Homo sapiens: one gene and its partners. The protein of the gene in region 1 purifies or fractionates together with the protein of each later gene. This does not show direct contact. Each region holds a gene or a part of one and is shown in the gene's direction. Other genes may lie near its edges.

Region 1 (4,035 bases):
TTCCCCAAATGGGGATTAGTTCAGCCAGGTTATTAAGACTCTTCCCCTCTTCCCTATACAGCTTTATTTACCAAGAGCAACTAACGGGCTGTCCGATGCTTGCTTTTGCCAGCCGAAACTATGTTTGTACACCAGATCCAAGGTCATTTCTAGTAATAGGAACGGAGCTCTTGCAAAACTGGCCTTTTGTTGGTTCTTATGCCAAGGAGACCTGAACTTTACAAAGTGCCTAAACCGGAGGAAAACATTCTTTCCTAGTTTTGAGTACTGGGTTCCCAGGAGTGTGATACAGACACATCTTGAGACTGTGACCCAAGGAACAAAGGTGACTATGAGGCAGCATTGTGTTCTGGCCTTCTCAAGACCTTCTTGTCCTTCTCTTTTTATCTGGAGTGCACACAGAAGACAGTCACAAAGGGATCAGGTCCCAGTAGACTGACATCATCATTTCCTAATCCTGGTCTTAATAAAGGAACTTATGCTCATGGAAGCAATGTAGAAAACACTGAAAAGTTTAAAGAAGGAAAATCACCTGTAATTTATGGAAACTATTGTATTAACATTTAGATCTAGTTCCTAACAGTTTTTTTTTTTTTAACACATTGAGACCATGCTTGTCTATACATAGTATTTTGCCCTCCAGAGACGAGGGAATATGTCTTATGCCACTGCCTGTGGTGCTGTGTGTACCGCTTATGCAAAGCAAGCTTTCAGTGAGCATTTTAATAAATAAATAAATACTGCTTTTATTTATCATTATATTGCAAACTCTGCGGCCTTAAAGGCATTATAAACATTTGCTGCCGATTTAGATCATCATTGTAGTCCTTGCATCTGGAACAGTGACAGAATAGGGACTCAAATGATTTGTTGAATAAATAACCATATCCTGTTGTTGAATGTTTATTAAGCATTTGAAAATACGCTCCACCTTTTCAGTATCAGGGAATTGAAGACAGTAGTGAAACATGTCATGCTGGTGAACCTTAAAAGTTGGATAACAAGTTGTGTGTATGTGCTTGTGTGGTGCACATGTATGCTGCAGATGGGAGTATAAAATGGTACCAACACTTTGGAGGAGTAACTATCAGTACCCAGTCAAGCTATGGGTGAACAGAGCCTAAGACCCAGCTGCGTGACTCCTAGGTATATATTCTAGAGAGGGGGATCTGCAAACTTACCCTAGTAAAGGGCCAGAGACTAAGTACGTCAGGCTTTGTGGGCTGTGTGGTTTTTGTTGCATCTATTCAACTCTGCTGTTATATAGCCTGAAGTCAGTCATGGGCAATATGTAGATGAATGAGCAGGCTGAGTTTCAATAAAACTTTATTTATGAAAATACAGCTTTAATTACGAAGTAGACTGGATTTGGCCTGAAGACCATAGTTTATCTGTCCCTGGCCTAGAGACTGACTTCTGCATGTGTGTGTTAGGACATGGGTCCCCAACCCCCAGGCCAGGGATCGAGGACTTACAGCAGGAGGTAAGCGGTGGGTAAGTGAGCTTTACCGCCTGAGCTCCGCCTCCTGCCACATCAGTGACGACATTAGGTTCTCATAGGAGCACAAACTCTATTGTGAACTGCACATGTGAGGAATCTAGGTTGTGCGTTCCTTACGAGAATGTAACTAATGCCTGATGATGTGAGGTGGAACCGTTTCATCCCGAAGCTATCCCCACCCTTCCCTGGTCCGTGGAAAAATTGTCTTCCACAAAACCAGTCCCTGGTGCCAAAAAGGTTGGGGACCTCTGTGTTAGGATACCTGTGTTGGCGCGTTCATTGCAGCATGGCTTGCAATAATGAAAAACTGACAGGAAGGGATCTTGGTCTATTAGCAGCAGACCAGATAAATAAACTTTAGTCACATGATGGAAAGCTAAACTGTAGTTAAAATGAACTAGATCTAGATGTATTTAACATGGCTGAATCTCAAAAATACAATATTTAGTCAAAAAGCAAGTTGCAAACACGTAATTATGGCATAATACCATTTGTATATGTAAATGTTAAAGGCATAAAACAGTCCCATATATTGCAGATATGTGTGCAGTGCACTTGTAGCTCCTGGGCAGGAGTGAGATGGCAGCTAGAGGGTAGAGGCCACCTCTGGTGAGGGACTCAGGTAGCATGTGGTTAAGAGTCTGGGCTTTTGTACTCCTGGAAGCCTGGATATAAATCCTGGTTTCACTGCGCTGTCACTGTGAGTTTCGGTAAGTTACTTAACCCTTCTGAGCCTTAGTTTCTTCATCTTATGTAAAGTAGGGATAATTGTACCTGCCTTGTCAGATTTTTGTAAAGATTAAATAAGATTATTTTTGTAAAACGCTTAAAGAGTATGAAACTCAGTAATCCTTAACTCAATAAATGGTATATATATATATATTTTTTTTTTTTTGAGAGAGTGTTACTCTGCTGCCTAGGCTGAAGTGCAGGGGGCAATCTCGGCTCACTGCCACCCCTGCCTCCCGGGTTCAAGCGATTCTCCTGCCTCAGCCTCCCAAGGAGCTGGGATTGCAGGCACCTGGCACCATGCCTGGCTAATTTTTTTTATTTTTAGTAGGGACAGGGTTTCACCATGTTGGCCAGGCTGGTCTTGAACTCCTGACCTCAGGTGATGCACCAGCCTTGGCCTCCCAAAGTGCTGGGATTACAGGTGTGAGCCACCGCACCTGGCCTGAATGGCGTTTTCATTACTTTAGGGTATACTTAATCACTTTTTCCTGCTTTATTTTCCTATGCTTTTTCTGTTGCCTTTCTCAGAAAAGCATTACTGTGAAGGGTGGGTGGTGGAGCATGTTGGTATGGAGAGAATGTCCACACTGTACCTGGTACTATGCTGGGAGCTCAATTCATTTCATTCCTTAGATATCATGGAATCTTCATAATATGTGAGGCGTAGAGTATATTCCCATTTTACAGATGAGGAAACTGAGGCTAAAAGATTAACAGATTTGTCTGAGGCTACATTTACAGGCTAGCAAACCAGATCTACTGATCCTTAAGCCTGTGCCTTGCCCACTCTGCCCCGTGCCTTGCTTTTCCTCTAGTGAGGGTCTACTGATTTCCGTGCTTTCAGCTCAGATCATCTTATCTCGACTTAACGCCATTCTCTAAATTAGAGAATATGAAGAAATTGTGACTCTCAGAGGTGGTGTAACTTGCCCAAGATCACAGAGTCTAGTAGGTAAGAGACAGAGTTGGAACTCATATCAGATTCTGAAGCTACTGTAGTGAGGTTCTACCAGGAAAAATAAAAAGAAAGAAAACTATGATTATGCTGCTCTCGTAATTTAGTGTCCAAATCAGGAGTAATGCCCAGTGTTCTGAATGTGATGAATTTTGAAAAATACCTTTTGAAAGTTCTGGAAGGGAATTTTAAAGTATCATTTCTGTACTCTTTCTGGGTTGATACTTTGGAATATGAATTTGTTTGTATGGGTTTTTTTGGTGGAGCATTAGATGCGTGTAAACTGACTTTGTAAGATAGCCTCCTAACTCCCAGTTCCTAGTGTTACTCTGCCATATAACTTTGCAGTCAGCATTTTCTGCCCCAGATGGAATCACCACCGTCTATCACATATGAAATAATGATTATCATTAAAATTCATTCTTGGATGTGATTTTCTAATTTTCAGGAGTAGCTCTCTGATTCTGAGTTAATTTCAAGTGATATTTGTAAGAACTACCACTGCATATTGCAGTTTTTGAAAACTAAAGTGTGAGAGAGATTAACCATGTGTAAACAGTTACTTGTGGATCCGCAGGATTCATTTTAATATTCAACTTATGAAGAGTAGTCTTTTATTATTATTAGGAGTTTCTCACTTCACTCTATAGGAAGCAATTGGGTATTTCCTTAAATATTTAAACTGGTAATCAACTTTCTTAAAAATGGAAAAGAGCATAGTCATTAAGAAGGGTGCCAACGTTTGGCCTTGATGCCAGCTGCCTATTACACCTATTCATCTAAAAATTAAAGAAGCAGCTAAGTTTAATTTTGATAAACCGTCAGCTGCTGTCAAGAACAGGCAGGT
Region 2 (4,035 bases), on another chromosome or scaffold:
CTATTATTCACAAAGGTCTGAATGTTTGTGGGATAAAACATTGAAAACCTGTTTTTAAATCACTAGAAGAAAATGTTGGATGCCAGTTAAATCTTAGGTGATTTTACCTAAAGGCAGTAGGCAATAGGGGTTGGGCTCATTGTCTTGTTCTGTAAAATATCTGTTGTGATCATGTACTTGGATGTACTGTTGTTTGTTGTAGGGAATCACGCTCGCTTCTAGCCAGGCTGTCAGCAACGCCAGGAAGCTGGAGTGGCCACTGACGGAAGTTGCAGAAGGTGTTTTTGAAACCGAGGCCCCGGGAGGATATAAGTTCTATTTGCAGAATCGCAGTCTGCCTCAGTCAGGTAATTATACCAGAACCAGTAAAAGCCTCTGTCTAAAGGCATCTTTGGTGAAAGGAGAGTGAGGGCTGCCTGTCTTTTTTTTGTAGAGTCTGTGTTCACGTGACGTGTCTTCCCCAGCCAGTGCTTTTACCTGTTATCGGAGAGACTACATTCTCATATCAGAACTTAAATACATAGCAGTAGGGGATCTAGACTAGTTCTGTTCTACTGGTAATGTAGTGATTTATGATTCTTTCATCTGTAAATAACAGAAAACCCAACTACTTTGAACAGTTATAGAATCTTTTAGCTCACAGAGCAGGCATTCTATAGGTGGGAAAGATTTCAAGGTTAGATGATTCACCAGCTCCCCACATTTTCTCTTTCTACGTTCTGTTGTTCTCTGCGGGTACCTCTCCTAGAACTAGTCCCCTCAAGGTTGCAGGAGAGCTGCCAGGAGCAGGTGGGGCCACATGCTCCCACAATCCCATCTGGTAGGAGAGGAGATGCTGACTTCTTTTTGCTTTTTTTTTTTGAGACTCTGTCAGTCCGGCTGGAGTGTACTGGCATGATCTCTGCTCACTGCAACCTCTGCCTCCCGGGTTCAAGCAATTCTCCTTCCTCAGCCTCCCAAGTAGCTGGGATTATAGGCGCCTGCCACCACGCTCAGCTTTTTTTTTTTTTTTTTTAGTATTTTTATTAACTTTTAAAAATTATTTGTTTTTTGAGACGGAGTCTTGCTCTGTCGCCCAGGCTAGAGTGCAGTGCTGCAATCTCGGCTCACTTGCAACCTCCGCCTCCCAGGTTCAAGTGATTCTCCTGCCTCAGCCTCTCCAGTAGCTGAGATTACAGGCACATGCCACCACGCCCAGCTCATTTTTGTATTTTTAGTAGAGACAGGGTTTCACTATATTGTCCAGGCTGGTCTTGAACTTCTGACCTCACTTGATCCGCCTGCCTCAGCCTCCCAAAGTGCTGGGGTGACAGGCGTGAACCACCGTGCCCGGCCCTTTTTGCTTTCTTTTTAGGAGCAGAAGAAAAACTTTCCTAGAATCTTCCAGCAAACTTCCTGTTCAGATTTGATATACTGTGCCTGCTCCTAAACCAATCACTGGCAAGAGAAATAGGATCACCCCCAAACCATTTAGCCATGCCTCCTCTGGAGCCGAGGTCAGTTTCCCAGACTTGAGCGTGGGTACTCAGGGATGGCATGGAAGTGAGGAGCCCCCACGCTGACTGCCACACAGAACAAGAAGGAAACTTTGCAGGGTTTGTTTTGTTGACTGCAGAGGCAGCCTCATCAGTGTTTCATTTTGTATTTAATGCCTGCAAATTCAGCTACCTGCTCTGACAAAACAAAAGCAAAAACGGGGAAAATGCTGGCGAATGGCAAGGGCACTTGTGCCGACTCCCTTACTTGGTGAACGTATGCCTGCAAGTGGGCCTGAGAAGGGAGTCCTGGAAATTCTCCTTCTTCACTGGTCGGCCTCCTGTCCCCGATGCCCCCATGCTGAGTCTGTAGAATGTTCAGTGCTCCTTGTTTATCATCCGGTGCTCAGCAAAAGAAAGATCCGTCTGTTCCAGTGTGGGAGGCTAGACTTGGCTGTGTGGGACTCGTGGAGAGATGGTGTTTCTCTGCCTCACTGGTGATTTAAAGGGTGTTGATGGTGTTTTTTTGTTGATAGGTGATTGATCCTTTGCTGACTTTAAAACTTAACGCTTGCAGCTAGCTCCACCATCCATTTTTTCTCTCCAGCCTTAGTGATATTTCAGTGCTTAAAATAATAGAGAGCCCCATGGTGCTAAGAAGCTTTTGTTCTTTGGAATGGAAATCCCCTTGGGCATTTCTGGTTGACAATGTGGTCAGACCTTCTGTCCGGCTGGCATTCATCTTTCCTTTGAATTACCCACTTCTGTGCAGCTTCACCCACGCGTTAACTTCCTGTCCTGCGTCCCTTCAGGCTCCAAGTCAACTGGGATTTGTTGATTTTGAAGTAAATGGAAAGAAAAAAATGGAGCCTGCCAGGCGGAGGCACTTGTGAGAAACAGCGTCTTAATCCCAATATTGCTGTTCTAGCAAACAGGACTAAGGCAGTAAAGCCAAAGAAAAATGTACTGAATTTATCGTAGTCAGATGGAGACGTGGAACAGCTCTTTAGAAAGTCACTTTACAATGTGAAAAGTTTCCAGTAACAGTAGGTGTTTCAATATGACTTTTATTCTTTTTACAAAATAATCAAGTTTTTTCCTTAGACAAGCAGAGAAGCTGAAAAAAAACACACACACCCATGTACCCAGAGAGAACCACTGCTGACATTTTAGAGTATATCTTTCCAATCTTTTGTCAAAAATACGTATATATAATTAAGTGTATACATTTCTGTATATCCTTTTTTAGGAGTTCCATCGTATTATTACATTGTAGGAAGAGAAACAATTCTCTATTGTTGGATATTTATGTCGTTCCTAGTGTTTTATTGTTCTAAGCAACACTGGTGAATGTCTTTGTCGTAAAAGCCCTTCATACATCCACAATTACCTTTGGAGTGGCTGAAAATGGACTTGTTCTTTCAAAAGCAATGAGCACTTTTTAAAGCTTTTGGTACATTCCATCAAACTATTGCCCAGAAATGTACTGATTTACACTTGTATTACATGATTGTGATTTTCCCCTCTACACTAACACAGTTAACACTGCCAACTTTTAACATTATTTGCACATTAGTTAACAAAGGATTTTATGTGAATTCTAATTTCTTTGTTGTTTGGGGGCGTCGGGTTGAAATTTTTTTTTTTTTTTTGAGACAGAGTCTCGCTCTGTCGCCCAGGCTAGAGTGCAGTGGCGCGCTCTGGGCTCACTGCAAGCTCCGCCTCCCGGGTTCACGCCATTCTCCTGCCTCAGCCTCCTGAGTAGCTGGGACCACAGGCGCCCGCCAGCACGCCCGGCTAATTTTTTGTATTTTTAGTAGAGACGGGGTTTCACCGTGTTAGCCAGGATGGTCTCTATCTCCTGACCTCATGATCCTGCCACCTCAGCCTCCCAAAGTGCTGGGATTACAGGCGTGAGCCACCGCGCCCGGCCTGAATATTTTTTCGTATGTTATTTGACCATTCTAATTCCTTGTTTTGTGGATTATTGCTTTGTGCCTTTTGCCTATTTTTCTAGCATGTTCATTCTTTTCCTATTGATATTTACAGGTGATTTACATATTAAGGACTTTTTGTCCAATATATTGCAGTTGTTCCCCCTACTGTGTTGTATACTCTAGTTTTGATTGTAATTCCTTTTCTTGGTTGTTGTCTAGGAGTTTTCCATTTTGTGTAATTTATGTAGCAGAAGTTTTTTCTTCATAGTTTTTCTATCTTTGGTGTCAGGTTTAAAGAAAAATCTTCCTCTACTCCAAAATTGTATAAATAATCATCTGTATCTAGTATTTTCATGGTTTCATTCTCTAAACTTATTTTTTTAACCCATCAGGAATGTATTTTGTCATTTATTTCGAAGATGTAAGTTTTTCTTACCAAATGATTAGCCAGTCTTCTTAGCGCCGTCCATTGAATAATGAGGCTTTTCATACTGTCTTTGTTTTTTTTTTTTTTTTTTTTTTCGAGATAGGGTCTCACTGTCACCCAGGCTGGAGTGCAGTAGTGCAGTCTTGGCTCACTGCAGCCTCAACCTCCCGGGCTCAAGCGATCCTCCTGCTTCCAT
Region 3 (4,035 bases), on another chromosome or scaffold:
GCGCCCAGACACGACCACAGCCTCCTGTCCTGGATACCAATTTCATAAGTGACCGATTTGTAAATGAAAAAGCTGATGTATTAATTATTAATTGGAAAGAGACTGCTCTGGAAACCCACGTTCTTTGCCATTCTCTTACCTGGGGGAACCCAGTGGGCCTTCAGAGGGCACACACTGGTCTGGAGTTTCAGTGAAGGGGTGTGTGGTTTGAGTGTATCTCATCAAGGGTCCGAGGGCACTGGCTGAGGTCCCTTCTCTGAAGCATCGCTCTCCCATGCCGGAGGCTGGCAGGTCCCATTTCCTAGTTCCTCCTTTGAGACTCAGTAGAGTCCACTAGAATCCCACCGTTTTGTTACTGGGGTCAGTCTCACTGACCCCACACAGGGACCTCCCATGTCTTCCAGATAAACCCTGGCCTCACATCTGCTGTGCAGTGGGCCCTTCCCTGTCCCTCAAGGAAGCTTCCTTCAGATTATAGGCAGGATGGCTACAGCCCGTGTCATCATTTCGTTTGGCTGAAACCTCCTTTTCAGAACAGTGGTCCCTTCGACAGCCTTCCATTTGGGCCCATCAAACACATTACCAAGAATTCAGCACTTCCGACAGTCAGACACCAGTCCAGGGGGCTCTCTCAGGTGTCGTCTAAGCCTGGGATCTCCAGCAAGTTATTTCAAAAAAAGCCTCTGGGGTTTTTGTTTTGTTTTGAGGCAGGGTCTTGCCCTGTCACTCAGGCTGGAGTGTAGTGGTGCGATCTCGGCTCATTGCAGCCTTGAACTCCTGGGCTCAAGTGATCTTCCTGCCTCGGCCTGCAAGTAGCTGGGACCGCAGGTGCACAGCTAATTTTTATTTATTTTATTCTTATTTTTATTTTTTGAGACAGTCTCGCTCTGTCTTGTAGGCTGGAGTGCAGTGGCACGATCTCGGCTCATTGCATCCTTGTCTCCCAGGTTCAACCAATTCTTGTGCCTCAGCCTCCCGAGTAACTGGAATTACAGGTGTGCACTACCATGCCTGGCTAATTTTTGTATTTTTAGTAGAGACAGGGTTTCGCCATGTTGGCCAGGCTGGTCTTGAACTCCTGACCTCAAGTGATCTGCCTGCCTCAGCCTCCCAAAGTGTTGGGATTACAGGCGTGAGCCACTGCACCCAGCCACTGCGCCTAGGCCAGGGCCTGCCTCTGCACTGCTGGCCTCATCTGGGGACTTGAGTGCCACAGGCACTCTTGGCAATTATTTAGACCAGTCCCTTCTCCAGATAAGGAAACTGAGACCCAGACCAGGGCAGGGACTTGTTCCAGACCCACCACCCTGGCCAGGTGTCACAGAACTGGGGCTCCATCTCTGCTCCCCTGTCCTTCTCTCTGACACTGCTAGTGGAGACTGGGCCAACATCCAAGCTCTTTGGAATTATTTTTAGAAGGTCTCTAAGAGAGGGCCTGTCTCCAGTGCCAGTATTTCAGAGTCAGAAGGGAGGCTGATGGGGTGGGGAGGGCTTGGTGAGGGTCACCTGGACACAAACCATGTTGCTAACGCCCAATTATTGATTTGTCTCAATAGGACATCAACCAGGAAGTTTATAATTTCCTGGCAACTGCAGGTGCCAAATATGGCGTGGGCTTCTGGAAGCCTGGATCTGGAATCATTCACCAGGTAAAGCTGGGCTCAGTCTGCCGTCCCAAGGGCCCAAGCCAGAGAAGTATGTTCCAGGCCTATGGGGGGAGGGGGTTTGAGGCCCAGGGGGGCTGAGGGGAACTGGATGACATATCCATCAGCTCTTATGCTCTTCCTCCTTTGTTTTGAAACTGATTTTCATTATGTCATTATACGTGCTCATTTTCTGGGTGAGAAGTTAAAATAATACCTCCTAACCACCCAGGTAACCAGCATTTTAAGTGCGACATGTTTCTTTCCACATTGTCTTCTGGGTGTGTACTCAAGCATCTCTATTCCCATAAACTCTCATACAGAACATGGTATTATTTTGTTTTTTTTCACAAGTGTCACCCCTTGTGGCATGCATCACTGACATTTGATGAGCCCATACTGTGTCTCAGGTACTAGGCTGAGCACTTGAAAGATATTTGCCATGCCCTGTGAGGTAGGTGCTTTTACTATCCACACCCTACAGAGGAGGCAGCTGAGGCACAGAGATGTTAACCTTCTTGCCCAGGGACACCTAGCTGGCTTACTGTGGAGCCAGGCCTGTGGGCAGGAGGGCTGGTCTGGAGCGAGTGCCCCATGCCACCGTGCTGCTCTGCCGCCTCCCTCGCCCCCAGAGCTCTTTCTGCTTCTGCACGTGGCGCTCCTCGGATTTCTTTTTGGCTCCTTCATGGTGTTCTGTAGGGTGAAGGTACCATAGGTCATGTGGCCATGTCAGCCGGGGGCTCCTCTGAGGTGTCCCAAGGATGGATCTTCTTTTGGTGGACAGTTGGACAGTTTTGTCTCTGGAAGTGCAAGTGTGAACGTGTATATCCTGGGGAGGTGGGTGCTTCCCTTTCTTCCAAGGGCACTGTTAGGGACCACTGACCTAGTTTGTGTCCATTTACATCCACCCTGTATGTATGAAACCTGCCTCTTCGCACCTTTGCAAGGTGGCCCTTCCCCCCACCTCCATCCCAGACCTCACTGTCCTGGCCTCCTCAGGATGTGCTGAGTCAGGCTGTAATCTGACGCCGCATGGGCTCCCAGCACCGCCCCGCTCTGAAACCAGAGCCAGCAGGGGATCACTCCTCTGCCCTGCCCAACCATCACTCTTGCCAGGAAGGGGCTGCGTGGAATGGCCGTTTGCAGCGGCCTGTGGGGACTAGAAAGCCCCTCTCTGCAGCAGGGTTAGGGAGTCAGGTGGACCCAGTCTTGGCCTTCTGTTACAAAGGGCACTGCAATGCAGGTGTCTCCCTTTCTACCTCAGTACAAATGCCCAGGCCTTTATGGCAGCTCCTGGGCCAAAGTTTGGAGCCGTGAGTGATGGCAGCTCACATCTGCCACCGGCTAGCTGCTAAGCATACAGCAGCTCGTGTGTTTGTTTCTTTAAAAAGAAAATGCCCAGGGGCCATGGGAGTACTTTGCAGCTTTACTTTCTTCCCGCCTTGATGTCACGTCTTCAGCAGCCTCAGTCCATTAGGTCCAACCCAAACCTGAACCCCTTTCCCTCTGGGAAGTGCCCTGGCCCCACTTGGCCCGCAGACCTTCCTCCACATCACAGCTTTCTGGTTCCTCTGTGGAGCCTCCCCGGCCCTCCCCGTGCCTGGCACAGTGGCTTCCAGTGGATCCTCTGTGGGATCTCTTCACATTATGTTCCAGCATCTGCCAAGTGCTTTCTGCACTGGATCATGTGCTCTGTGGGGACAGGGACTGTGGCTTATTTATTCCTCTCTAGCTCTGGGTTTGGGACCAGGTCAGTACAGAGCAGGTCCTTAATGTATGTGTGTGTTGTGTGGATGGATGGCTGAATTTCCAGGTGTAGTTCTAGGCATTAGTCCTTCTTCCCAGCCCTCACCCCCATCTGTCCAGCCACACCCACAGACCGGGGAGCTCACTGTCACGGCCAGCGTCATCGTGACATCTTCTGCAGTCCTCATGTCTGCCTGACCTCTCCCCCTGGATGTGGACCACAAGTGTCTACACCGTGTGGACCACAAGTGTCTACACCGTGTAGACCACCCCGAATTCTGTGTGCCCAGCCTTCGTGGATCCAACTTTTACAAGCTTGAGGCTCTTTAGGGATGCACTAGTCTTAAATCCTTGTACGTGGCAGCATTGGCCAGTTCTTCGCAGCCAGGTCTTCCCTCTGCATCCCCAAGAGATGAGACCTTTGGACCTTAGAGTCTGCTAGGCAGATGCTTGTCCTGAGGCAGAGGCCCTGGGGTTTCTGTAAGATTTCTGGGAGCACTGGTGGGTCCTGAGAGTTCACAGAGCCTGTCACACCTCTCATGTGTTCTTCCCCACATCCCCGGGTGGGGCACTAACTCCATCTGACTGATGAGCGGCAGAACCTCAGGTGAAGGCTCTTGCTGCAAAACAATAAATAAAAATGTTG
Region 4 (4,825 bases), on another chromosome or scaffold:
GAGATGGGGTTTCACCACGTTGGCCAGGCTGGTCTTGAACTCCTGACCTCAGGTGATCCACCCAGCTTGGCCTCCCAAAGTGCTGGGATTACAGGCGTGAGCCACCGCACCTGGCCTCCATTTCAATTTTTATCCTAAGTACATATTCATAAATATGGAAAAAGATTTATGTACATAACGTGGTAATATATTGAGGCTAAAAGAAAAAGATTTAGGTACAAAGATATTTAATCCAGCATTATCTACACTAAGATCAAAATTGTTGAAACCATCCAGCAACAGGGAAAATGTTAAATAATTTATGGTATGTTTATATGTAGACCATTATGTAGAAAAAAAAGCTAATGAAATTTTAGACATGGGAACAGCTCATGACACAAGTTTGTTTAAAAAGGCAGTTTCCAGGACTTTTTGTAAAATTAGTTTTTCTGAAAGACTGAGAGAAAATGTTATCTCTGAGTGGGTGATCTCTGAGGGGTGTAATTATTGACTATTTATTTTCCTGTTATATATTCTGTGTTTCCTACAGAGAGCTCTATTATTTATACAATCAAAAACTTGTTTTTAGAAAAATACTGTTTTGGCAATACTTTGGAATGGAATTTGGTGTTCAAAGTCTCAATCATGATGCACTCCGCTAATTTTAAAAAATTAACAAGAACTTCACAAAATCCTAATTTTTAATCTTCCCTTTCCCCTTAATCTTTTTCATTGCAAATAGTTTCCCACGGTCTCAATTTCATCTTTAAATGTGAGCATTTTAGGTCATTACTCTTCAAATGTAACTTCGGTCTCCACAGGCTGATATATTTTTAATGTTTCCTCATGGATTAAAAATAAAAGCTCTCTGTATCTTTGATTTTCATCTGAACATAGTCCCACACTATGTTGTGCATTTAGTTAACAAGTGGTAATTTGCTCAGGAACTTTTTTTTTTCTGGATAATTTTTATCTCAAAAAGCACTGGCAGGGCCACTTTGTAGTCAATGACACGTGGAAACCAGTCTACCGTGAGCCAGTGGGACGCACTGGGAAAGGCTGAAGAAAAGGCGCCCGGGGTTCCAGTGAGCTCAGGATACCCACCCAACGGCAGGGCTGGGGCCCGGGGCAGGCAGCCTGCCCGGGAGAGACCCCTAGGGGAACCCGAATGAGGAGGCGAGGGCAGAAGACGCCAAGTCACGGACCGCCCAGGGTGGCCGAAATAGAGAAGGCCAATCTGGGAGACCGGCCTCGGAGTACACAGTGCAGGGTGGAGAACTGGAGAAAGAGGTAAAAACTTTCAGCAGGGATGGCCGAACATTCCATGCAACGCCCCTTTAAAACGACGTTTCAGGCGATCACTAGGCCTTGCGACCGCAGCTTTAGCAAAAACAGAAAGATTTGCGACGGAAGTCCCTTTCCAAGCCTGAAATCGCCTTGACCCTAGGAGCCAGAAGCTGGGGAGGAACTCGCAGTCCGGGCGGAAGAGCGCGCATGCGCCGCCTCAGGGGCCGGTCCCGGGGGCGGGGCCTGTTCCCTCCGCCCTGGGTCTCCACAGGCTTTCGCGGGGCGGGGCCTACTCCCTCCGCTCTGGGTCACAGCGGGCGTTCGGGGGGCGGGGCCTGTTCCCTCCGCTCTGGGTCCCCGCGGGCGTTCGGGGGCGGGGCCTGTTCCCTCTGCTCTGGGTCTCCGCCGGCGCCCGCCCCGCCAGCCTCACCTGCGCGGCACGTGACCCGCACCGCCCGTGGGCACCTTGAAGGCGGATCCCGCGCGCCCCCGCTCCTGCAGGTGAGAGCGGCCGCGCCCACGGGCCGGCTCAGCGGCGGTGGCGGCAGGTGGGGAAGCGCGGCTGGGCCTGCTCGCGCGGGGCGTCTGAGCCCTCCATTTCCCGGTTCTAACCGCGCAGCAGGGCCCAACCGGGACCTTGAGTGCGGCGAGGCGTGGTTCGTGCACCCTTGGCCCGGGGCTAGGGCGGGCGTGTCGGCGTCGGGTGGAAGGAAGCCCCTTGCGGGTGAGCTCCCTGCCTCCCAGGCCTCCCTCTTGCCTGGGGTCGCTCAGTCCACAGAGGCCCGGCCGCTCATAGAGGGGGGCACATTCCTGGTCTTTCGTGCATGGGGGGTGTAAGTGGCGGACTTTATTTTGGGAGCGCTGGACACCTTTCGGGTTTGCTTTGAATGAGATGGGATTCATGTGTTTACGCTGGCCAACTGACCTGGTGTGCCCGGGAATTTACTGTTCGCGTGACAGCCGAGGCCCGAGGGAACGCCCACACCGCCCCCCCTACCCCAAGGCAGGTCCTGGGTAGGCCTGAGAGCTTTTTCAAAACAAACTGTTCAGCTGACGGTGGCCTCGGTACTTCCCACTGAATGCCCTGGAACTTGCAAAGGGAGCTGAGTGCGGCAGAGGGCTGGGAGCCGGAGTTTGTTTGGAAAATCACCTGTGCGCACTTGCACAGCTGGGATTTGCGAGCTCTCCAGAAAGCACCACCTGGTCTTGATTGTTTTCAAGACAGCAGTACAGGGATAGTCTACCAGAAATTTTCGTGTTTGGTTTTTAGGCTTTATTGGAGTTTATGTTCGAAGAAAAGAAGCTGAACTTATCCTAAAAGGATAAGATGAAGATAGGGAAAGGCATGCTCCTTATGCCTTAATATTTGTTTGATTGATTGATGGGGTCCTGCTCTGTTGCCCAGGCTAGAGTGCAGTGGTGCAATCACAGCTCACCGCCGGCGTCACCTCCGGGGCTCAAGTGATGCTCCCGCCTCAGCTTCTCGAGTAGCTGGGACTACAGGTGCTCGCCACCACACCCAGCTAATTATTTTTATTTTTAGAGAGATGGGGTCTTGCCTTGTTGCCCAGACTGGTCTTAAACTCTTGGGCTCAAGTGTTCCACCCATCTCGGCCTCCCAAAATGCTGGGACTACAGGTGTGCACCATCGCGCCCAGACTTTTTTTTTCTTTGGTAGAGGTGTTTCCGTAAATAAGACTAGGACAAAGGATTATCAATTTTACAAGTCAAGGTTATACCTGCCCCTTTCAGAGCTGATTCTGCCTCACTTGACACCAGTTTTCCACCGTCAGTTATGTTTCTGTGTGTGTATATATATTTAGTCTTGGTAGATTTTCTAATTTCATATTACATATGGATTATTTAAAGGCTGGAACTCAGTTGGGCTCGAACAAAATAAATATTCAACTTATATTTATTTAAGTACATTAGGTGCCTGACAGTTTTACATGGTGTGGATACAGAAATGAGCAAGATGGCAAAGTACCTACTCCTTTGGGATTTACATCCTAGTCGGAGGAGACAATTTAACAAATATCCGATGCTGGTGGTAATTGCTGAGAATATAGAGTGATGTGCTAGCCTAGGGAGTGGCTACTTTAAATAGGGAAACCGTCTCTGAGGAGAGACACTGAAATTGAGATCTAAATGACAAATAGGATCCCAAGAGCAGAGGCAAGAACATTTCAGCTTGAGAAAACCGCTTTATGGAGACGGAAGACTGTTAGGCCAAGGAGGCTGGAAAGAAGAGAGGGACAGTGGCCAGAGTTGAGATCTGAGAAGTGGGCAGGCGGGAATTATATAGGATTTTGATTACATAAGACTGTATAGGATTTTGTTTGCCATGATGAGTTTGATTTTATTCTAAATTTGTAAATTTGTTCTTGAGCGTGGTCTGGCTAAGTTCATTTTTTGACACTTTCTTAGGTTTTCTTTTCTTGGTTTCCTTGATTCATTCAGAGGTGGTTCCTCACCTCAAGTCTTTTGTATAATTTTACTATTTATCAGACAGGATGACAAACCATGATAGGACAGCTTTCAACATGGTCACTTATTAATAAATTTTCAATGAGACTTTTGTTGTTTTTTTTTAAGAGCAAATCCTACAGTTTGATTTTAAAGGCGGAGCAGATAGCCTTGGCTCCATCCTGTGAAGGGAACAGCTAAGATAGTTTATTAGAATAGAAAATACTTTTTGAGTTGAGATGAGCAGATCTGGAGTGAGGTATTTTTGAGAACTCCTTATGAGAAAGGCTTCAAAGGTGAAATAAACACCTTAGGTTTTGAAAGCTCAACATCAAATCAGTTTGAAGTTATTTGACAGTTTGAAGGTTCTTTTTGAGGAGTTGTGGAAATTTATTGGTATGACAACGGTGGTTGTGAGAATCAGAGGTTATAGTCTTATAGATTTTTTTTTCTCCAAATTGTTCTTATCCCAGGTAACAGGTTGTCCTTTAAAACAGAGCTCCCTTGGCCGGGTACGGTGGCTCACGCTGGTTATCCCAGCACTTTGGGAGGCTGAGGTGGGCGGATCACTTGAGGCCAGGAGTTCAAGACCTGGCCAACATGGGGAAACCCGGTCTCTACTAAAAATACAAAAAATTAGCCGGGCGTGGTGGGACATGCCTGTAATCCCAGCTACTTGGGAGGCTGAGGTGGGAGAATCACTTGAACCCGCGAGGCGGGAGTTGCAGTGACCTGAGAACATGCCACTGCACTCAAGCTTGGATGACAGAGGGAGATCCTGTCTCAACAAAACAAAACAAAAACAAAACATAGATCCCCAACCCCCAGGGCCGAGGACTGGTACCCATCATGGCCTGTTAGGAACTGGGCTGCACAGCAGGAGGTGAGGGCATGAGTGAGCTCCACCTCTTGTCAGATCAGCTGCAGTGTTAGATTTTTTTTCTTTTTTTTTTTTTGAAGGCGGAGCAGATAGCCTTGGCTCCATCCTGTGAAGGGAACAGCTAAGATAGTTTATTAGAATAGAAAATACTCTATTTTCTAGAACTCTAGAGATGGAGTTTCGCTCTGTCACCCAAGCTGGAGTGCAGTGGCA
Region 5 (4,035 bases), on another chromosome or scaffold:
GCACCCTGGTGTGGGCTACCAAGACTGAGTCTGAACGCTGCCTGGTAGGGAGAGGGCAAGGCAGAGAAGACCAGGGTGTACCCTCCTCAGCTTTGGATAATGGTGGAAATGAAAAGTATCCATTCTTTAACTCCAGGAGTTGGCTGTGGTGGTCTCAGGTAGGGCAGGTGGTGGCCCTTTGCCAAGAGAGGACCTGACTGGGGAAGGTACCCTTATGGTTAGGAAGGGGCTACAGAGTGGCACTGGACAGATCCCAGTCCCAAAACTGCCACCTGTGGCAAGTCATATAAACTCTTGGTGCCTCAGTTTTCACGTCTGTAAAATGGAGATAATTTATACCTTCATATGGTTGATGTGAGGGATGAAATGAAAATGCAGCTTAAGCACCTAGTACAGTCCCTGTACATGGTAGGTGGTCAGTGCAGAGCAGTGATGGTGAAGGGAGATTTTAGTAACAATGTCTGGAAGAGCTTCTTATGGGATGGGGGAGACAGTCTAGAACTTAGAGCCTAGGAAAGCCTTAGGACCATGGGTGACGGAGTACACAGAAGAGTACGAGAGTTCCCAACAAAATGAGCTGGCCCTTTGCAGCTCTCTGTATTCTATTTGCTGCAAGAGGCCCAAGAAATAGGGCTGGGCTTGAGAGGCCTCTGCAGTCCTGAAACCAGGCTCAGATAAGCCCGCAGCTCTGCAGCTCTCCTCCCTGGCAGCCCTGCCTGGAGCTGCCCCTGCCCTGTTGGGAAGGAAGGATGGCCCAGGGCTTAAAAACCTGGAGACTGGGATTTCACTCCCCGTTCTGTGACTTACCAGCAGACAGGTTACTTATCCCACTTCCTCACTTTGAAAAAGGTCATGATAATAATCATAGAGTTGTACAGATTAGATAAGACACCATCTGTAAAAGCCTTAATGTAGTTCTGGATACATAGAAGCTCTCAAAATATTAGCGTGGTGGTGACTCTGGGGCCCCATTTTGTGTGATGGTGGTGGCTGGGGTTGTAGGTGCTTCAGCAGCCTCCGAAGGTCTTGTGTGAGTGGGGCAGTCTTTGAAATGAGGAATTTCACCAGAGGCTTCCAAATAATTGAAGAGGATATTCTCAAAACAAAATGTAATGGTAGTACACAAGGAAACTAATGATCTCCCCACCCTCAGTAGAACTGTCCATGGATCGTCATGTTCCTGTTGGTCTGGAAATCCTGGATGCTTCTCTGCGATTTATTTTCTGGTTTTTATCTTCAACATCCTTTTTTTTTTCTTTTTTGAGACAGTGTCTCACTCTGTTGCCCAAGTTGGAGTGCAGTGGCAGAATCTGGGCTCACTTGCAATCTCTCCCTCCCAGGTTCAAGCGATTCTCCTGCCTCAGTCCCCTGAGTAGCTGGGATTACAGGCATGTGCCACCACACCCAGCTAATTTTTGTATTTTTAGTAGAGACTGGGTTTTGCCATGTTGGCCAGGCTGTTCTCAAACTCCTGACCTCAGGTGATCCACCTGTCTTGGCCTCCCAAAGTGCTGGGATTACAGGCATGAGCCACCACGCCTGGCCCAACGTCCTTCTTAGCACTCCCCAGTGGGTGTCCTGTGTTTGCCTCCCTAACTCCCAAGACAGGGATGGGATGTGGTGGTTAGTTAGTTTTCCTTGTTCCCTGTGGGGTCAGATGGGTCATTTGGACCTTTTTGGTCTTTATGCGATTGGTGTGGATCACACCCCCAGGGAATGGACCTGGATATATCAGAAGAGGGAAGGAAGGAAGCAGCAGCAAAGGTTTTGGAGTAAGAAGACAGGGCATCTGCCACAAGGCCATTTTGGTTGGGGAGACCTGGTCTTTGCCCCCTGGAATGCTGGTCTTTGTGTGTTTTAGGAGAGGAGGAGAGAGCACAACTGTGTTATATGGAGCCCCTGTCCACCTTCTCCCTCATCCTGATAAGGGTGAAATGGTCCCTGCGGTAAGGCCTGGAGTGTGGCAGACAGGATCGTCATCCTGGGCCTGTTGGATCAATGGTTAGAAGCTGGCCTCTTGGGAAAGCAAAGGCTGTGGGTTCAGCTTGGGTTGGGATCAGTTTGTCTTTTTTCATCACAAAGACTAAAACTGTTGTGACCATGAATTGTGGCCTGCAAGAGGCTCCGTTCAGCCCCTGCTTAGACTGTGCCACTTGGCAAGGGAGCTCGGAGAGCTGAGGCTGTGAAAGATGTAGGTCTGAGATGAGAGCCTTCTGCCTGGCTGGTCATGGTGTTCTGAGACCTCCTTAGGTGGGTGGGTTTGGGGGCACTGGGAGGCACCTGAGGGGACATGCATCCCATTAGCCTAAGGCTGGGATGGTCTTTGAGGGCTTCCATCTATCCCGTAGCCCACAGACAGCCTGGGCAGACAGTTGGTGGGCAGATGGTGCGTGACCCCACAGCCTTCTCTCTGTTGGCTTCTGGGTGTGACTCTGCCCCTCGGGAAACAGCTGTGGTCACTTGAGCCCCTGGCCTTGGCTCCTGCTCGGCCCCAGAGCTGGCATGGGAGGCCTGTGGCACTGCTGGGGAGGTCTACTCTGGCTGCAGAGGAAGGGTGTGGCTGCACTCAGAAGCCAGTCGTTGGTATGCCGAGGCTCCACGGCCCTTAGTTATGGGGTGGTTTTTATTTGGGGTTGCTTGAGCAGCAGCGTCTTGGGGTGTGGGGCGGGGTAGGAAGTGTGACTCCTCAGTCAGGCTGGGCAGCTCCTCCTCTCTGGCCTGGCAGCTTCCCCTGCCCTCCCCATCTGCCCCTGGCCCTGAGCCCTGGCTGGGACCAGGGAGTTTCAAGGGGCCTGTGGTCAGCCCCATCTCTGCCCCACCTGTCTCTCCTTGTAGGCAGCTGGCTGCAAGGCACAGCTCAGCAGAGCCACATCCCGGTGACCTTGAGGGCTGTCCTTCTCTGCTGGGAGCTGCCCGCCCCACTTGTCACTGCTGCCACCTCAGTGCTGTGACGCTCTTGTCTAAACCACTGGCCTGGCCTTGTCCAGATGTTCTCCTGCCCTTCTCACCCTACGCAGGGACAGATGATGAATACAAGAACAGAAGCTGTTGTGGCTCTGCTCCAGGGGAAGCAGTCCTCTTTTTCTTTCCTTTGCAAAATAGTGTAGCCATGAAGCAGTTTTGTTCTTCCCCACAGCCAAGTAATAAAAATGAGTCCACATGTGAGTCTGCTGTGCACCTGGCAGTCCCTTCAGGGAAGAGTCTGATCACAGTGCCCTTACTGAGCTGGCCTGAGGTTATTTCTACCTTGGGAACAATGGTGGCCAGAGAGGAGAGGGACTTGGCTGGCCACATGAGGCCTCTGTATGGAGCTGGGCCCCGGCCTCTCAGGAGCAGTAAGTGGGGCCTCCCAAAACGGGGCTCCCAGGGGCAGCCAGCACCTCCGAGAAGCTGCAGGGTGGGGAGGGGGTATCACAGGCCACTGTGACCTTTGGTTCACCTGGTAGTGGAGAAGGGAGCACAGCCCTTACTCATGGGACTCCAGCATGGGAGCTGGAAGAGAGCTCAGACAAGGAAACTGGGGTTTGCAGAGGGAGAGCTGCACACTCTCACTACCCAGCACTTAGTGGAGGGTGTGCTCTGTGTGGTTTCCATTAGACCCGGGCAGCCCACAGAGCTGTAGGATTTGGGGTAAAGAAGAGGTGGCATTTGGAGCCCTGTGTGCACCCCGGAGTTTCTGTGGAAGTGCCTGCCAGGTTTTAGTGAGATGGGGACATTGGGCTTCTCTGCTGACCTGGAAGGGTAGTCCAATCCAAAGGCAGTTCTAGAGGCCTGAAAGGCCAAGAGTGGGCCACTGGTGGGGGAGAGATTCCAAAGGGGGGGAAGCCTGGATATCTCCCTACATTTGGAGGAAGCCCTATAGCCAAGTGCTGTGTTTTGGGGCCTAGACAGGGAGCCCTGGAGATGTTCGGAGCAGACAGAGCCACTGGCGCTGGCTGTGGTCTCCTCCTCTGTGAGGAGGGGACATACACCAGAGACCTGTCGGCCATCATGGAACCCATCTGCCTCCCCAGCCTTCTCTGAATCCCCACATCT
Region 6 (4,035 bases), on another chromosome or scaffold:
TTGTGAGGCTTACAGGACAGTGGGGAGACTGATTGCAGACAGGTAACTGGATAGCCACTATTCCTGGTTGTGATAGGCACTCAGAAGGGGATAGACAGGCTGTATTCCTCCTATTCAGGAGGTCAGGGAGGAGAACGTTGGTCAGAGCTGGGATGGATCCTGGACCAGGACAGCAGAAGGGAATCCACTGGGAGAGATGTTCAAGATGCAGAATGGACCCGACACGCAGCTGAGAGGCTGTGGGAGAAGGGGAACAGCTGGGCTGAGGCCCCCGTCTCTAGCCAGGGGACAGGTGTGGGGCCAGGTGCTGGGTTCAGGTTTGGATGTGCTGAGTGTGAGAGGTCTAGGAGACATCTGGAGCGTGTTGACCCCCGCAAGTCTGGTGAGTCCTCCAGCTTAGCCTGTCCCGGCCCCTCACAGCTGTCCCTTCTAGAATCACAGCCCTGTGATTCATCCCCACCTGGGCCTTGTTTCCTGAACCCCACATCTGACCGCTGGCCCGAGGGAGAATGCCGTCGGCCCCTGCTCTGAAAGCCCTGAAAGCCCATGCCTGCGTGCACACACGCGTGCACACACACACACACCCTCTTGATTTGATTTCCTGTGGCCTGGGTATGTGCCCACTCCCATTGGCACACCTAGACCCACCTGCTGGCCCAGATCCCCATGCTTGGTCTGCACTGAGACACTTGCATTTCCACGCTGGGAACCTCACCCAGGAAGGCTAGAGGATCTGGAACCCTCACCCCTCACCACTCTCTGGCCACTGTGCTAGGTGTCCCTGACATGAAGGAGGCAGTGACAGTTACGGGCCCAGCTCTGGGCCACCACCAGGTCTGGCGAGTGTCATTGTCAGGATGATGCTGTCCTTCCTGTGTTACAGAGGGGCCTTGGGGCAGGCTGTCATTGCTCAGGCAGCAGGTGGCGGAGCCCCGGGGGGACCCCAGATCAGCCTGACCCTAAGACCTCAGTGTGGGAGGGGTCTCCACAGCCTGGACCCCAGGAACCCACAAGCCCAGGGCCTAAGTCACAGCTGTAACAGTAACTGCAGCAGCTGACAGTGACAGTGACAGTGACTTCTCGGGCCCTAAGCTTGCACCTCAGGTCTTCCCTCCAGCTCCAGCAGAGCTCCCCAAGCCTTCCTGCCACCCCACCCCTTTGAAGATGAAAAATGTGTAGTGGCTGGGCTCAGTGGCTGTCTCCTGTCGTCCCAGTACTTTGGGAGGCTGAGGCAGGATGATTGCTTGAGCCCAGGAGTTCAAGACCTGCTTTGGCAACATAGCAAGACCCAGTCTCTACCAAAAAACAATTTAAAAACAGCCAGGCATGGTGGGGCATCTATAGTTCTAGCGGCTCCAGAGGCTGAGGCAGGAGAATTGCTTGAGTCTAGGTGTTCGAGGTTGCAGTGAACTGTGATGGAGCCGCTGCCTTCCATCCTGGACCACAGAGTGAGAGCCCATCTGTTAAATAAATAAATAAATAAGATGGAATATGGCAAGACCCCATCTCTACCCAAAAAAAATAAAATTAGCCAGGCATGGTGGCATGCACCTGTTGTCCTAGCTACTCAGGAGGCTGAGGTGGGAAGATGACTCGAGCCTGGGAGGCAGAGGTTGCAGTGAGCTGAGATTGTTCCACAGCACTCCAGCCTGGGCAACAGAACGAGATCCTGTCTCAGAAAAAGAAAAAATAAATTGTGTGCCCTCTAGTGCATTTTCAAGTTGACAAGTAAAACTTTTCTTCATTAACCTTAAGTAGTTGTGAAGGATGGAATTTCTGGTTCTGGTGTGTTATGATACTGACATGTTCAAACAGCTGGTGCATCCTTCCCTTCATATTTATTGCAGTTCGCATACAATAATGATTTGATGCCTACCAATGTCTGGTTTAAAGATATATATATATAGGCCAGGCATAGTGGCTCACGATTGCAATCCCAGCACTTTGGGAGGCCGAGGCAGCCAGATCACTTGAGCCCAGGAGTTCAAGACCAGCCTAGGCAACATACTGATAAACCCCATCTCTATTTTAAAAAAAATACAAAAATGACTAGGCACGGTGGCTCACGCCTGTAATCCCAACACTTTGGGAGGCCGAGGTGGGTGGATCACGAGGTCAGGAGATCGAGACCATCCTGGCTAACACGGTGAAACCCCATCTCTACTAAAAATATAAAAAAATTAGCTGGGCGTGGTAGCGGGCGCCTGTAGTCCCAGCTACTCAGGAGGCTGAGGCAGGACAATGGTGTGAACCCGGGTGGCGGAGCTTGCAGTGAGCCGAGATCGCGCCACTGCACTCCAGCCTGGGCGACAGAGTGTGACTCCATCTCAAAAAAAAAAAAAATATTAGCCAGGCATACCTGTAGTCCCAGTTACTCAAGGGACTGAGGTGGGAGGATCATTTGAGCCTGGAAGGTCGAGGCTGCAGTGAGCCATGATTGCGCCACTACACTCCAGCCGGGGCGACAAAGCAAGACCCCGTCTCGAAAATAATACAAATAAAAACAAGCTCTTCTTTTTCAGTCAGAAATTTCACATGGTTTCTTTTTGTTCATGTACTTTTGTATTTACAGTCCACATACCCACAGAATTCCATCTAGTGATTTATATGTCGGCAACCAAAATACATACAGAAATTTACATGTTAATTTCCTGTGACCATAAGGTTCTAAATGCTAAGTTATTTTCTTCTGGATTGAGTTAATTTTGAAATTATTAGTGCGCAGTTACTTTAAAATGTTCATCTTTTGGATGGACATGGTGGCTCATGGCTGTAATCCCAGCAGTTTGAGAGGCCAACGCAGGTGGATCACGAGGTCAGATGATCGAGACCAGCCTGGCCAACGTGGTGAAACCCCTTCTCTACTAAAAATACGAAAAATTAGACGGGCATGGTGGCGCGTGCCTGTAGTCCCAGCTACTCAGGAGACTGAGGCAGGGGAATTGCTTGAACCTGGGAGGAGGAGGTTGCAGTGAGCCAAGACTGTGCCACTGCACTCCAGCCTGGCAACAGAGTGAGACTCCGTCTCTAAAACAACAACAACAAAAAGTTCATCTTTTATACATTTTCATGAATAATTACTAAACCTTAAAAGTAAAAGGAGATGTTGCAAATGAGTCTGCAAAGGCACCACACAAGGGTTCCCTCTGTGGTTTCATGTGCCCTTGGATGAATATTAATTGTTGCAGGAGTGAGTCAGGATGCAGCATCAATTCTGCATTGGTTTTAAAGACTCAAGTGCTGAGAACCTTCCTTCATAAAGAAGCAGCTAGGCAAGGAAGGAGTTTTTGTTCCAGCAGCACCACTCACCTCTTGAGCTCCCACCAAGGTATGTGCCCAAAACCTCACTGTGAAGAGCTCGCAGCTCTTAGCTGCACCTTCAGGGCTGATGAAATTCTAGGATTGGAGCCATCAGACTTGCAAAAATGATTGATTATTACAAGTGTATCTAAGTGTTCAGAGGCACTTAGCATCGACTGCCACCTTAAGCTGCCCTTTGGAGCCAGGAGCCCCCCTCTCCCCCATCTGTAGCCCCAACTTTGCATTTTGGGAAAATAAGGCAAGAAAGGAGGTTGGTCTTTCTCCTGGGAAGTGGGTGGGGCGACAGTGCCAGGGCAGGACAGCCAGGATGGCAGTGGCTTAAGGGAGGAACACAGGGAACTAAGCATCTGGCAACTGGACCTTTACACCGTCCATGAACTTGGCGCTGTGGAAGCTCCTGGTGTCCCTCTTGGGGCGCGGCCCCTCAAGTCCGAGGACCTCCCTTCTGGGGCAGTGTTTCTTATTCCTGGCTGCTCGCTAGAATCATCTGGTCTTTTAAAAGACCCCTGGGTTACCCAGGCTAGGTGACTGCATTCCCTGGGTGAGAGGGGTGGGGCTTGCAGGGGGCTCCCAGAGCGCAGCCTGACCCCTCTCTTCCCCCGCAGTGTATCACTGGGTGGAGATGCGGACCAAGATGCGCATCATGGGCTTCCGGGGCACGGTCATCAAGCCGCTGAACGAGGAGGCGGCAGCTGAGCTGGGCGCAGAGCTGCT
Region 7 (4,035 bases), on another chromosome or scaffold:
AGAAAGAAGTAGACATGGGAGACTTTTCATTTTGTTCTGCACTAAGAAAAATTCTTCTGCCTTGGGATCTTGTTGGTCTGTGACCTTACCCCCAACCCTGTGCTCTCTGAAACGTGTGCTGTGTCCACTCAGGGTTAAATGGATTAAGGGTGGTGCAAGATGTGCTTTGCTAAACAGATGCTTGAAGGCAGCATGCTCGTTAAGAGTCATCACCACTCCCTAATCTCAAGTAATCAGGGACAAACACTGCGGAAGGCCGCAGGGTCCTCTGCCTAGGAAAACCAGAGACCTTTGTTCACTTGTTTATCTGCTGACCTTCCCTCCACTATTGTCCCATGACCCTGCCAAATCCCCCTCTGTGAGAAACACCCAAGAATTATCAATAAAAAAATAAATTAAAAAAAAAAAAAAGAATAGTTGTATTAATGGGAAAAACTAGGGTTTGGCAGTGGATTCCTCTTGATGCAAGTGTCACAACATGATTTGCTATTATACTGATTTTTAAAACTATTAGTCTGTTCTCACATTGCTATAAAGAACTACCTGAGACTGGGTAATTCATAAAGAAAAGAGGTTTAATTGACTGGCAGTTCTGCAGGTTGTACAGGAAACTTGTCTGGGGAGGCCTCAGGAGACTTACAAGTATGATAGAAGTCAAAGGGGAAGCAGACATGTCTTTCATGGCCGGAGAAGGAAGAAGAGAGAAGGGGGAGGTGTTACATATTTTTAAACAACCAGATCTTGTGAGAACTCACTCTCTGTCACAGGAACAGCAAGGGAAGTCTGCCCTTGTGATCCAGTCACCTCCCACAAGGCCCCTCTTCCACCATTGAAAATTACAATTTGATATGAGATTTGGGCAAGGACAGAAATTTAAACCATATTATATATCAAGTCATGAACAGTGTCCAGGAAAAGATATTGACAGCCTATCACTTGATAAAGTGGCAGAATTAATCTATGTTATCCCTCTGAGCATCACATGCTGATAGTTACCTGAGAGCTATAATTCCATTCCAAGTTCTAGGTTAGTGTACTCAGATTTCTGTCATTCCCTTAAAATACATTTTTACTTACTGCTAGTGCATATATTTGAAATTTTACAGACTTTAAAATTTATTGAACATAAGCCATAAAGTCATCAAGGAACCCCTTTAGTTATGTATATAAATGTAGAAATAAGCCTTTGGGAATAGTGAGTTAAAACTACAAGCTCTTGGGAAGACATTACCTTATTCATGTTGGGCAGAGATGTAAGAATGAAATAAGTCATGTAGTTACCCTTCTATTACTGTTTTTTTTTTATACATGTGTACACAAAGCAAGTTTCCCAATATAACTCCTAAAAATAGAGTGTGCCACCAGGCACACACCCTTACTGTGTCCTAAAATACATGAATTTCTCCTATTCCATTTTTGGCTTGGAGCAAGTGAGTTGACTGCCATTCTTTGAAAAAGCTGTCATTGAATAGTTTAATACAGTGCTTTAATTGTGATACATACCAGTAATAGTGCCATAAACATGGGAATCTGGGTCAGAAAAGGAAGTAAACCCATTATAGCTATTTCAGAGTTGTCTGTTTCTTTTCATTTGCAGATTTTTTAAAGGCATTATTCCTATAGGTTGATTGATATTTGCAGATTTGTATATATATGTTAAAGTGTGTATGTGGAAATATGTGTAAGTGTATATGTTAAGTGTTTATATATATAAAAAGTGGCGCATGGGAGGTAGGCATTCAGGGCCTTATAATTAGAAAATATCAAAGAAGATATATGTTTATTACCTAGGGCTTTATGTAAAATCAATGGTAGAGAGCACTTAAAATTGAAGCTTATATTTTTTGGTCTTTAACAATCATAGGTCTCCAGTAAATATAAAAAATGCTTCTTAGGGCAACTAAAACTAAGCAAGTAGTACGTGATAATGAGTCTGTACCATCCCTACCCCCTAGTCATCAACTTCCCCTTCAGAGAGATAATTTATTTTAGGTTTGGTCTTTATTCTTCCAAATCTTTTCCTTTTTTCTTTTTCTTTTTTTTTTTTTTTTGAGACACGGTCTGCCTCTGTCACCGAGGCTGGAGTGCAGTGGCACGATCACAGCTTACTCTGTAGCCTTGAGCTCCTGGGCTCAAGTAATCCTCCAGCCTCAGCCTCCCAAGTAGCTAGGACTACAGGCATTTACTGCCATACCTGGCTAATTTTTTATTTTTAAGAGACAGGGTCTCCCTGTGTTGCCCAGGCTGGTCTTGAACTCCTGGGCTCAAGCAGTCCTCTGGCCTTGGTCTCCCAAAGTGCTGGGATTACAGACTTTAGCCACTGTGCCTGGCCTCGTCCAAATCTTTTCTATGAGTTTACACACTTGCAGTCTTGAACAAAATTTTAAAGAGAAAGTACCTCAAGAAAGTGAGCATTGGTTCAAAAAACAAAAACAAACAACCCACCAGTATATATGAAAGTTATCACAGAGGAATAAAACATCCCTGTAGTACTTTTCATAATATATTCTTAATCTTAAAACATTAAATGTGACTCTTTTTAGAAATCTTGGGGGAGAAAATATGCCTACAGTGCTTATTTTCCTGCTTTTCCTGGTAATTGCCTAATATCTTGGTGAGAAGTACTGACTCCAGAACAAACCAGTGGAGAACAATAGAACTCCTCTGAGAGTTACTTAGCAGCTCACTCTATGATTTGAAAAAAATGATTGTTACATGACATTTCATCCATAAGAACAAGCCCATTTCTAGTTCTGGCACTGTATGACATGTTCTCTTTGAATCTCAGTTGGCATTAATGACTATGCTGGTAGTATTCATGTGTCCCTTGTGAGGCTGTGAACAATCTCCCATTACTTGCCTGCCAGAGCAGCCTTCGTGCTTTGGTGGGAGTCATTTCCAAATCTAATTTTCTGTTCATATTGCAATTTAAAGAACGTTTAGATAGAAAAAAAAGGGCCCAGGCTTCACAAAGAATTTCAATTTACATCAACGATTTGAACAAAAGCTTCAGATAATATAAGTGAAAATACTAAAATTGGGGCAGAGTTAAAGATGTTCTGGCATGTCATCAGTTGGGAAACAACCATGGCATAGTATAGAAAATTTCAGGAGTGAGACCTAGCTGTGTATGGAGAGAGCTCTATCACTGATTTCACTGGGACCTGGGGCGAGCTGCCTCATCTTCCTTGGAGTTAGTTACCTTATATTTAAAATCAGGAGAAAAGGGAAAAAAACTTCACTTTTGTAATAGTTTAAAATGTTACAATGGAACTATGAAACTGATAGTTCTGCATATCTTAAAAGGCAGTTAGAAACTCAGAAAAAAATCTGATTCCCAAATAGACTCTTCAGATAGTTTTATCTTCATGATCATGTCTCTGTGGTTCCACCTTTCTGAAAACAGTCTTCAGTAACTTAAGAAATCATTTCAACTTCCATGATCTTCAGTAGCAGCAGCATGAATGACACATGCCAAGAGACTAAATGGAATGAGATAAGCCTGTCTTTCAGAGACATCATCTATTTCCTGCTGCTGTCCAGACAGGAAAGTCAGACTCCATTTTTCCCCTTTGTAAAGTTGACTTGAGCTACATGAAGCACTTGTTAGAACAGTCCAATTCAAGATAATTGTGCTTTATGACTGCATTCAGAATCACATGTGTACCCACTGTGTGTGTGGGGGGTGTGTGTATGTGTGTGCATGTGTGTGGGTGGGTGGGTGGAGGGGGTGTGTGTGGGTAGGTGGGTGGTGGGGGTGTGTGTGTATGTGTGGGTGGGTGGGTGGTGGGGTGTGTGTAGGTGGGTTGGAGTGTGTGGGTTGAGGGTGTGTGTGTATGTGGGTGGGTGGGGGGATGTGTGTATGTGGGTGGGTGGGGGGATGTGTGTACGTGGGTGGGTGGGGATGTGTGTGTGTGTGTGATTGAGAGGGGAGGGAGATATAGACACACAGAGAGGGAGTATTTTGTTGCTATGTCTTTATGTTCTTTTTTAAGACGATTTCAAAGATGATACATCCTGTTGAGGCTGCTAAGA

The links.
Region 2: the proteins of GLRX5 (region 1) and GLOD4 fractionate together in Homo sapiens (co-fractionation; one large-scale study listed by BioGRID). This does not show direct contact.
Region 3: the proteins of GLRX5 (region 1) and ACO2 fractionate together in Homo sapiens (co-fractionation; one large-scale study listed by BioGRID). This does not show direct contact.
Region 4: the proteins of GLRX5 (region 1) and WDSUB1 fractionate together in Homo sapiens (co-fractionation; one large-scale study listed by BioGRID). This does not show direct contact.
Region 5: the proteins of GLRX5 (region 1) and RAB11FIP5 fractionate together in Homo sapiens (co-fractionation; one large-scale study listed by BioGRID). This does not show direct contact.
Region 6: the proteins of GLRX5 (region 1) and OPA3 purify together in Homo sapiens (co-immunoprecipitation; one large-scale study listed by IntAct). This does not show direct contact.
Region 7: the proteins of GLRX5 (region 1) and CLIC4 fractionate together in Homo sapiens (co-fractionation; one large-scale study listed by BioGRID). This does not show direct contact.

The regions. Positions count from the first base shown.
Region 1 is NC_000014.9:95,537,515-95,541,549, forward strand, and holds part of GLRX5 (glutaredoxin-related protein 5, mitochondrial precursor), read left to right. Parts: intron 1-4,035.
Region 2 is NC_000017.11:772,087-776,121, reverse strand, and holds part of GLOD4 (glyoxalase domain-containing protein 4), read left to right. Parts: intron 1-202; coding exon 203-347; intron 348-4,035.
Region 3 is NC_000022.11:41,510,320-41,514,354, forward strand, and holds part of ACO2 (aconitate hydratase, mitochondrial precursor), read left to right. Parts: intron 1-1,556; coding exon 1,557-1,649; intron 1,650-4,035. UniProt on the Homo sapiens protein: Catalyzes the isomerization of citrate to isocitrate via cis-aconitate.
Region 4 is NC_000002.12:159,283,525-159,288,349, reverse strand, and holds the start of WDSUB1 (WD repeat, SAM and U-box domain-containing protein 1), read left to right. Parts: upstream 1-1,646; 5' UTR 1,647-1,767; exon of another isoform or gene 1,768-1,990; intron 1,991-4,825.
Region 5 is NC_000002.12:73,106,272-73,110,306, reverse strand, and holds part of RAB11FIP5 (rab11 family-interacting protein 5), read left to right. Parts: intron 1-4,035. UniProt on the Homo sapiens protein: Rab effector involved in protein trafficking from apical recycling endosomes to the apical plasma membrane. Involved in insulin granule exocytosis. May regulate V-ATPase intracellular transport in response to extracellular acidosis.
Region 6 is NC_000019.10:45,553,803-45,557,837, reverse strand, and holds part of OPA3 (optic atrophy 3 protein), read left to right. Parts: intron 1-3,188; exon of another isoform or gene 3,189-3,328; intron 3,329-3,926; coding exon 3,927-4,035. UniProt on the Homo sapiens protein: May play some role in mitochondrial processes.
Region 7 is NC_000001.11:24,800,677-24,804,711, forward strand, and holds part of CLIC4 (chloride intracellular channel protein 4), read left to right. Parts: intron 1-4,035. UniProt on the Homo sapiens protein: In the soluble state, catalyzes glutaredoxin-like thiol disulfide exchange reactions with reduced glutathione as electron donor. Can insert into membranes and form voltage-dependent multi-ion conductive channels.